Homo sapiens: one gene and its partner. The protein of the gene in region 2 purifies or fractionates together with the protein of the main gene of each other region. This does not show direct contact. Each region holds a gene or a part of one and is shown on either strand. Other genes may lie near its edges.

Region 1 (3,652 bases), about 15 Mb from region 2:
AAGGCAGGGCCTGGGGCAGGCGAGCAGCCCAGCGCAGAGCCCCCCACCTCCAGGCTCCCCGGCCCACGGGCACCCACCAATCTGGAAGTAGGAGTAGGCAGCCAGGGGCTCGTTGACCAATCTGTCACGCTTTGGGTTGCGTGGACGCAGGTGCATGATGTCACTCTCGGCCTTTTCATATGCCAGGGACACAGATGGGAACTGGCCAGGAGTGGAAGGAACTGGGACTGAGGGTTTGGCTGGGCCCTTGTCCCCTCCACTTCGGGTCCCCCTTCCCCCACTTGTGAGCAGGAACAGGACTGAGGTTAGCAGGCAGGACCTGCAGGGACGGCACAGCCACACCAGCCTGGACAGCCTGGGCCCCACTGGCCCCTGGGTGTTGGCATCCTGGTGCCCATCTTCGTAAGAACATCTGCTTTTATCTTCTCCCTCTGTCTCCCTCCCTCTCTTTCTCTGTTCCTCACTCTGTTTCTCTGTCCCTGTCTCCAGTGTAATTCTCTGTGACTGTATCTGCTCTTGTGTATTTCTGTGTCACTCCCTATCTCTGTGTATCTTCAGTCTCTCAGTGTCGCCGTGCCCCTTCATCTGCTTGTGCCTAGAGTGGCAGCAGAGCATACTGACCACGACCACAGGCTGTGGGACCTGTGACTGCTCAAGCTCAAGTCACAGCCGGGCCACTTATTTGCCCAGTGACCTGGGACAATCCACTCTACCTGTCTATGCCTTGATGAGCTCATCAGTAAAGTACGGGTGATAGTAACAAAACTCATCTCATAGTGTGGTTATGAGTACAAAATTAAGGAAATGATGGTGTGTCTGGCCCAGAGAAAGCACTGTGTAAATGTTACCGAATAAATACCTGTCAACACAGCTGCGCCTCTGGCTGCATTCGTGACTGTATCTGTGGTTCTTTTCTGTCTGTCTGCCATGGGGTCTATCTGAGGGGGTTTATTTGTCCGTGTCTGTTTAGGGGCACGTGTCTGTGATTCAAGTTTGGCCAGATACCTGTTCTGTTTCCATCTCTGTCTGAGTATCTGTATCTGAGTCATGTGTGTGCATGGGTCGGCCCGGGCCTACCTGAGTGTCCGCCTGTGTGTGCATGGCTGTATGTCCATTTAGGTCTGTTCACCTGCCTGCCACCCATGTGTCCTGCACTGGCTGTCATTGCACACACAGGTCTTGTCTGTCACTCTGTGCCCAAGAGTGTCTGTGGTGGTCTCTGTCCCTCCTGTCCATCTGCAAGCAAGTGTCTCTGGGCACCCTGTGGATGGGTACCCTGGGCTGTGGACTTACAATGTCAGTGCAGAGTTCGATGAAGAGGATGGTGATGCACCCGAGGGGCAGGGGCACGCTGACGGTGATGTAGATGAGGTAGGGTGTCAGCTCTGGGATGTTCTTGGTCAATGTGTAGGCAATAGACTTCTTCAGGTTGTCGAAGATCAGTCGACCTGTGGGGTAGGGTGGGCACCTCAGCCTCCTCACAGCCCTCTCCCTCCTGTGCCCACACTGCCTGCCCTCCCCCTGGCGTGGCTCGGACCCTGCTCCACGCCTGTCACAATGGAGGCAAAGTTGTCATCCAGCAGGATCATGTCAGCTGCATTTTTGGCAGCATCTGAGCCAGCGATGCCCATGGCTACTCCGATGTCTGCCTTCTTCAGAGCTGGGGAGTCATTCACACCATCCCCCGTGACGGCCACAATCGCACCCTGCAGGCAGTGGGTGCAGGTGGTGGGTGGGTGGTCAGTGAGAGGCCGGTCCAAGACCAGCCCCGCCTGTCTGCCCGCCTGCCCACCCTCATCAGCAGGGCTCACCAGCCGCTGGCAGCTCTCCACGATCACCAGCTTCTGCTGGGGGCTGGTGCGCGCAAACACCATCTCGGGGTGGGTGCGCAGGGCCTCGACCAGTTCCGATGGGTCCATGTCCTTCAGCTGCATGCCATTGATCACACAGGCACGGGCATCCCTGGGGAGGAGATGGGAGGACCTCGCTGGGACCTCGGTCTGTGCCAGATGTGGGGAGAACCCCGGGGAGGTCTGGGGGGGCTTACTTGCGATTAACCTGGTCTACGGGCACACGGAGGCGGGCAGCGATGTCCTCCACTGTCTCGCTGCCTTCCGAGATGATGCCCACACTGGCTGCAATGGCCTTGGCGGTGATGGGGTGGTCACCCGTTACCATGATCACCTGTAGGGGGAACCAGTGGATCACTGACCCCTTCAGATCAGCCCAATCTCCCTGTCCTCCCTGGGAGACATCTGCTGATACACGTGTTCATTTACTTGACCAAGCGTGACCACCTCCTACGTGCCTGGGATATAGCAGAGACAAAAGAGACAAAAATCCCTGTCCTTGAGGAGCTCTAGTGAGGGTGACAGAAAATAAAGAAACGAATTATATAGTGTGTTAGAAAGTGGAAAAAAACATATTAAGCTTGGTGAAGGAAACGGTGACTCGATTTTAAGTGTACCCAGGGAAGGGCTTATTGAGAAGGTGATATCTGAGCAGAGACCTGTAAGAGGTGAGAGAGTCAGCCACGTGGAAAGCTGGGAGAAGAGTGCTCCTGGCAGGGAGAACAGCAGGTGCAAAGGCCCTGAGGTGAGGACAGGCCCGAACTGTCGGAGGAACAGCAGGGAGGACACCATAACTGCAGAGGAGTGAACAAGGAAAGAGGGCTAACGAACAAGCTTAGAAAGGTAACAAGGCCCGATGTAACAGGGCCGTAGAGACACGGGAAGGGCTTGGGCATTGCCTGCCTGGCCTTGGCTTTCCCACCCTTGTTTTGTGTTTGGGGAACCACTCCTCTCCCCTACACCATCAGTTGCAGTGAGGTCCCTGGCTAAGATTGGGTAAGTAAGCCCAGACCTGGCCAATCAAGGTCTTCCATCCCCCAGCCCCAGTGACTGGCTCAGGGATAAATGAGTGACCCAATCCAGTGCTACTGCAAAAGAGGCACTCTCTTTTTGTGGGGTGGCTAAGCAGGTGGGAGTTAAGTTTGAGCTGCTGGAGCAGGGGTGTGTGTGTCCCCAAGTGAAGGGAGTGCCTGCAAATAAAGCCAGCAAAGAGAACAGCAGAGCTGAGACATGGAGAAAGGAAAATTCCTAATGACACTGAGCTCCTGGATCTGGCTAGACCTGAAGCTTAATTCCCCAGAATTTTTCAGTATCATAAACCAATGCATTTTGGTTCAAGCCAGTTTCAGGTGGGTTTGTCATGGGGTTCTTCAACCCAAATCCTGCTGCCATCCTCTGTCCTCACTCCACTTGTTCCTCCCCACAGTGGCATACCCGGATGCCTGCGGTGCGACACTTGAGCACAGCATCAGGGACGGTGGCCCGGGGTGGGTCAATCATGGATACAAGTCCCGCAAAGCAGAGGCCGCTAGATGGAAAGTTCATGGCCTCTACGTCGAAGGCATAGCCAGGCGGGTAGTCCTTCTCATTCAGGTAGAGCTGGCAGAAGCCTGACCGGAAACGGGGAAGTCAGGGAAGAGCCCTGGGCACACCCTTTCTTAGCAGGGCCAGGAAATGGGTAAAATAACCAGGCCCCTTGCACCAAACACCTATGGATGCCTGACCTTGTGCTGACCCCTTCACTCACATTATCTGAATCTACCCTCACAACCACCCTGTGAGGCCCATTCTCATCTTACAGA
Region 2 (3,249 bases):
GCTGTTGTGAGGATTAAATGAGATTATGAGCATATTGCTTTTGGCACGTAGAGATGCCAGATGGAAGTTTTTCCCCCTCAAAGAGGCTTTGGAGAAGTCTATTCCTCAAAAGAGGTTAATAAAAAAGATCAATTCCACCTTCAATCATTAATTCAACTCTTATTTACTGAGCACCTAGTATGCCTGAGGTGCTGTTGCAGGCGCTGGATATACAGCCATGAGCAAACTGTACAAAGTCCTTGTCGTTATGGAGTTGCAAGCTAGGTGGGAGAAATAGACAATAAACAAATACACATAAAATAAAACATTAGGCAAAGTGCTGTAAGGAAATATTGTGGAGCGTAAAAGGATAGGGAGTAATGGAGGGATGGTATTTTTTAATTCGAGTGGTCAGGGAAGGCTTCCAGGAGGAGGTGACACTTGGAAGGAGCAGGATTTAGCACAGATTGAGGACCCGGTTGTCTGAGGGCAGGAAGACTGGAAAGAGAGGGTCAGAGGTATCATAAAGGGGCACCTCCAAGTAACCCCCAGCCCCTTGATTTGAAAATGGCTCAGGGTAAGAAAAAACACGTGAGATCCAAGGGCCCCTCTCTAGATGGAGAAAGCCCAATAGCAACAAGTACAGCTTCGTTTAATGTGGTGAGAAGTGATGTCCCCTGTGCACAGTGTCAGAAAATTCCCCCATGCAGCTGGAAAACTCCCCCATTACATCCTGGAAAGAAAGGGGGTTAGATCCAGACAGGGATGGAGGCAAAGGGCTGCTCTCTCAGGGAACCTTACAACCTCTTCCCCCTCAGAGAATTTTCCTGACACTCTCAACTGTGCAGAAGTAAAAATCTTTCCCCAGAAGAAGTGTGAGGATGCTTACCCGGGGCAGATCACAGATGGCATGGTCTGTGCAGGCAGCAGCAAAGGGGCTGACACGTGCCAGGTGAGCAATTTCTGAAATCCTTCTCCTCACACATCCCTCATTGCCCTCTCGAGGTTCAAGGCTTGGATGGGGGTGGGGGTGGTAAGGGAGTGACCCCAAAGACTTGGCACCCGGAGTGTTCACCCCTATCTCTACGGATTGGGAGCCAGGTTCAGAGAAGCCAAACTCTCTCTCTGAAAGTCACACTGCATAGGGATTAGGAGCATTGAATTGCTGCTGCTGTTTTCTTTCGAACGCTTAACTACAGGATGGGATGCAGAGTTGGGGGCTATAGAGGGTGGGGTAGATGTCCAGCAAGGAGAGAGTCTGAGGCTAGAGTTTAGACGAGTTGCCTGCTCTCTGGTTCCCAGCATTACATCGTGGAATTTGTGCCGACTTTACCACCGGCCCGGTGGTCAGCCACTTTTCTTTGAGACCGGGCTAGAATCCCAAGGCTGGTTCCCTTCTCCTGTGATTGGTTCCTTGGGAGACAATGGTGTCTTCCCAGTTGGCTGGAGTAAATGGTGCCATTGACTTCAGTGCTTCCTCAATGAGCTCCAATCCCTTTCTCTTGGGATTTGTCATAGATATAACTCTCTCTTCTAACTGCAACTTCGTTGTTCCTAGCACTTTCCCCTGGCTTTGTCCACTTCCTGGAAGCCCCACCACCTTTGCCAATGACTGGTCCCTAAATACAATGCTTTCTTCCCCATTGGCCAAAAATGGAGTCGTTTCCATCAGCGATACTGCCATGAAAGCCAGTCTCTGGATTGTTCTGTAGAGATAGTGGTCTCTTCCACAAATATTTCAGCCATGGTCTCTTGGGGATATGGTGTGTGTGTGTGTGTGTGTGTGTGTGTGTGTGTGTGTGTGTGTGTCCATAAGAATCTTGATCCTTTCTCCTATGTTTGGCAACTGCAATCAATGATGCCTTCACTATTGGCCAGGAACAGAGGAAACTTCAGCTCAGTCCTCTCCAAGTAATCCCTACTGTCTTCTCCCTGGATTGGACCCTCGAGAACTCTTTTTTTTTTTTTTTTGAGACAGGGTCTCGCTCTGTCCCCCAAGCTGGAATGCAGTGGCACAATCTTGGCTCACTGCAGCCTCTGCCTCCCAGTTCAAGCAATTCTCCCACCTCAGCCTCCCGAGTAGCTGTGATTACAGGTGTGCACCACCACACCCAGCTAGTTTTTGTATTTTTAGTAGAGACAGGGATTCACCATGTTGGCCAGGCTGGTCTGGAACGCCTGACTTCAAGTGATCTACCGCCTCGGCCTCCCAAAGTGCCGGGATTGCAGGTGTGAGCCACCAAGCCTGTCTGGGATTTCATTCTTTCCCCTCTTCTGTCAGTGTTTTGACCACTACCCTTAGACACCATGTCTGTCTGTACATGGAAGCCCCAAGCCCTGTCCTGACTGGTCTCAGGGGACAATGCTTTTACCCCCATTGGCTACAGGGGACCAATCATGCCAAAGAACTGGTAAAACGCTGGGACAGCAGGAAAAGGGACGTTGTGGACATCTCAGATGCAAGGCTGTTCTCATTCTCCCTGTCTAGGGCGATTCTGGAGGCCCCCTGGTGTGTGATGGTGCACTCCAGGGCATCACATCCTGGGGCTCAGACCCCTGTGGGAGGTCCGACAAACCTGGCGTCTATACCAACATCTGCCGCTACCTGGACTGGATCAAGAAGATCATAGGCAGCAAGGGCTGATTCTAGGATAAGCACTAGATCTCCCTTAATAAACTCACAACTCTCTGGTTCCTTGCCTGTCTCTGTTTTGGCCCTGTGGGGAGGGCTGGATGGGGATCCGGGATTGTTCCTGCTGGCAGACTAGGTGGGGATGTGCAGAAACCAAGTTCTCATGGTCACTTTGGCCATCACCACTGCCTAAAGTGATCCCTCGTTTTCTGGAAGAACTTGGGTAAGAGCTTTATTTCAGGGGAGAAAATACATACAAAGGTCTTCAAACATTCAGTGGGCTGGTATGTGAAAGACAGTTTTGAAAGAGTTTGTGTTTAGTTTTCCTGAGCAAAGCATTTACAAGCTTTGGAGATAAAATTTTCCCCCTTTAAAAAATAATTGGCCAGGTGCGGTGGCTCAAGCCTGTAATTTCAGCACTTTGGGAGGCCGAAGCGGATGGATCACCTGCGGTTAGGAGTTCGAGACCAGCCTGGCCAACATGGCAAAACCCCGTCTCTACTAAAAATACAAAAATTAGCAGGGTGTGGTGGTGGGCATCTGTAAACTCAGCTACTCAGGAGGCTGAGGCAGAAGAATCGCTTGAACCCAGGAGGCGGAGGTTGCAGTGAGCCAGGGATCATGCCATTGTACTCCAG

What was found. Proteins that work in one complex are often made in the same cells at the same time.
Region 1: the proteins of KLK8 (region 2) and ATP4A purify together in Homo sapiens (affinity purification with mass spectrometry; 3 studies listed by BioGRID and IntAct, with this or other methods). This does not show direct contact.

What each region holds. Positions count from the first base shown.
Region 1 is NC_000019.10:35,553,629-35,557,280, forward strand, and holds part of ATP4A (potassium-transporting ATPase alpha chain 1), read right to left. Parts: intron 3,461-3,652; coding exon 3,285-3,460; intron 2,185-3,284; coding exon 2,048-2,184; intron 1,963-2,047; coding exon 1,812-1,962; intron 1,707-1,811; coding exon 1,538-1,706; intron 1,449-1,537; coding exon 1,294-1,448; intron 202-1,293; coding exon 78-201; intron 1-77. UniProt on the Homo sapiens protein: The catalytic subunit of the gastric H(+)/K(+) ATPase pump which transports H(+) ions in exchange for K(+) ions across the apical membrane of parietal cells.
Region 2 is NC_000019.10:50,995,433-50,998,681, reverse strand, and holds the end of KLK8 (kallikrein-8 isoform 1 preproprotein), read left to right. Parts: intron 1-797; coding exon 798-931; intron 932-2,467; coding exon 2,468-2,623; 3' UTR 2,624-2,674; downstream 2,675-3,249. UniProt on the Homo sapiens protein: Serine protease which is capable of degrading a number of proteins such as casein, fibrinogen, kininogen, fibronectin and collagen type IV. Also cleaves L1CAM in response to increased neural activity.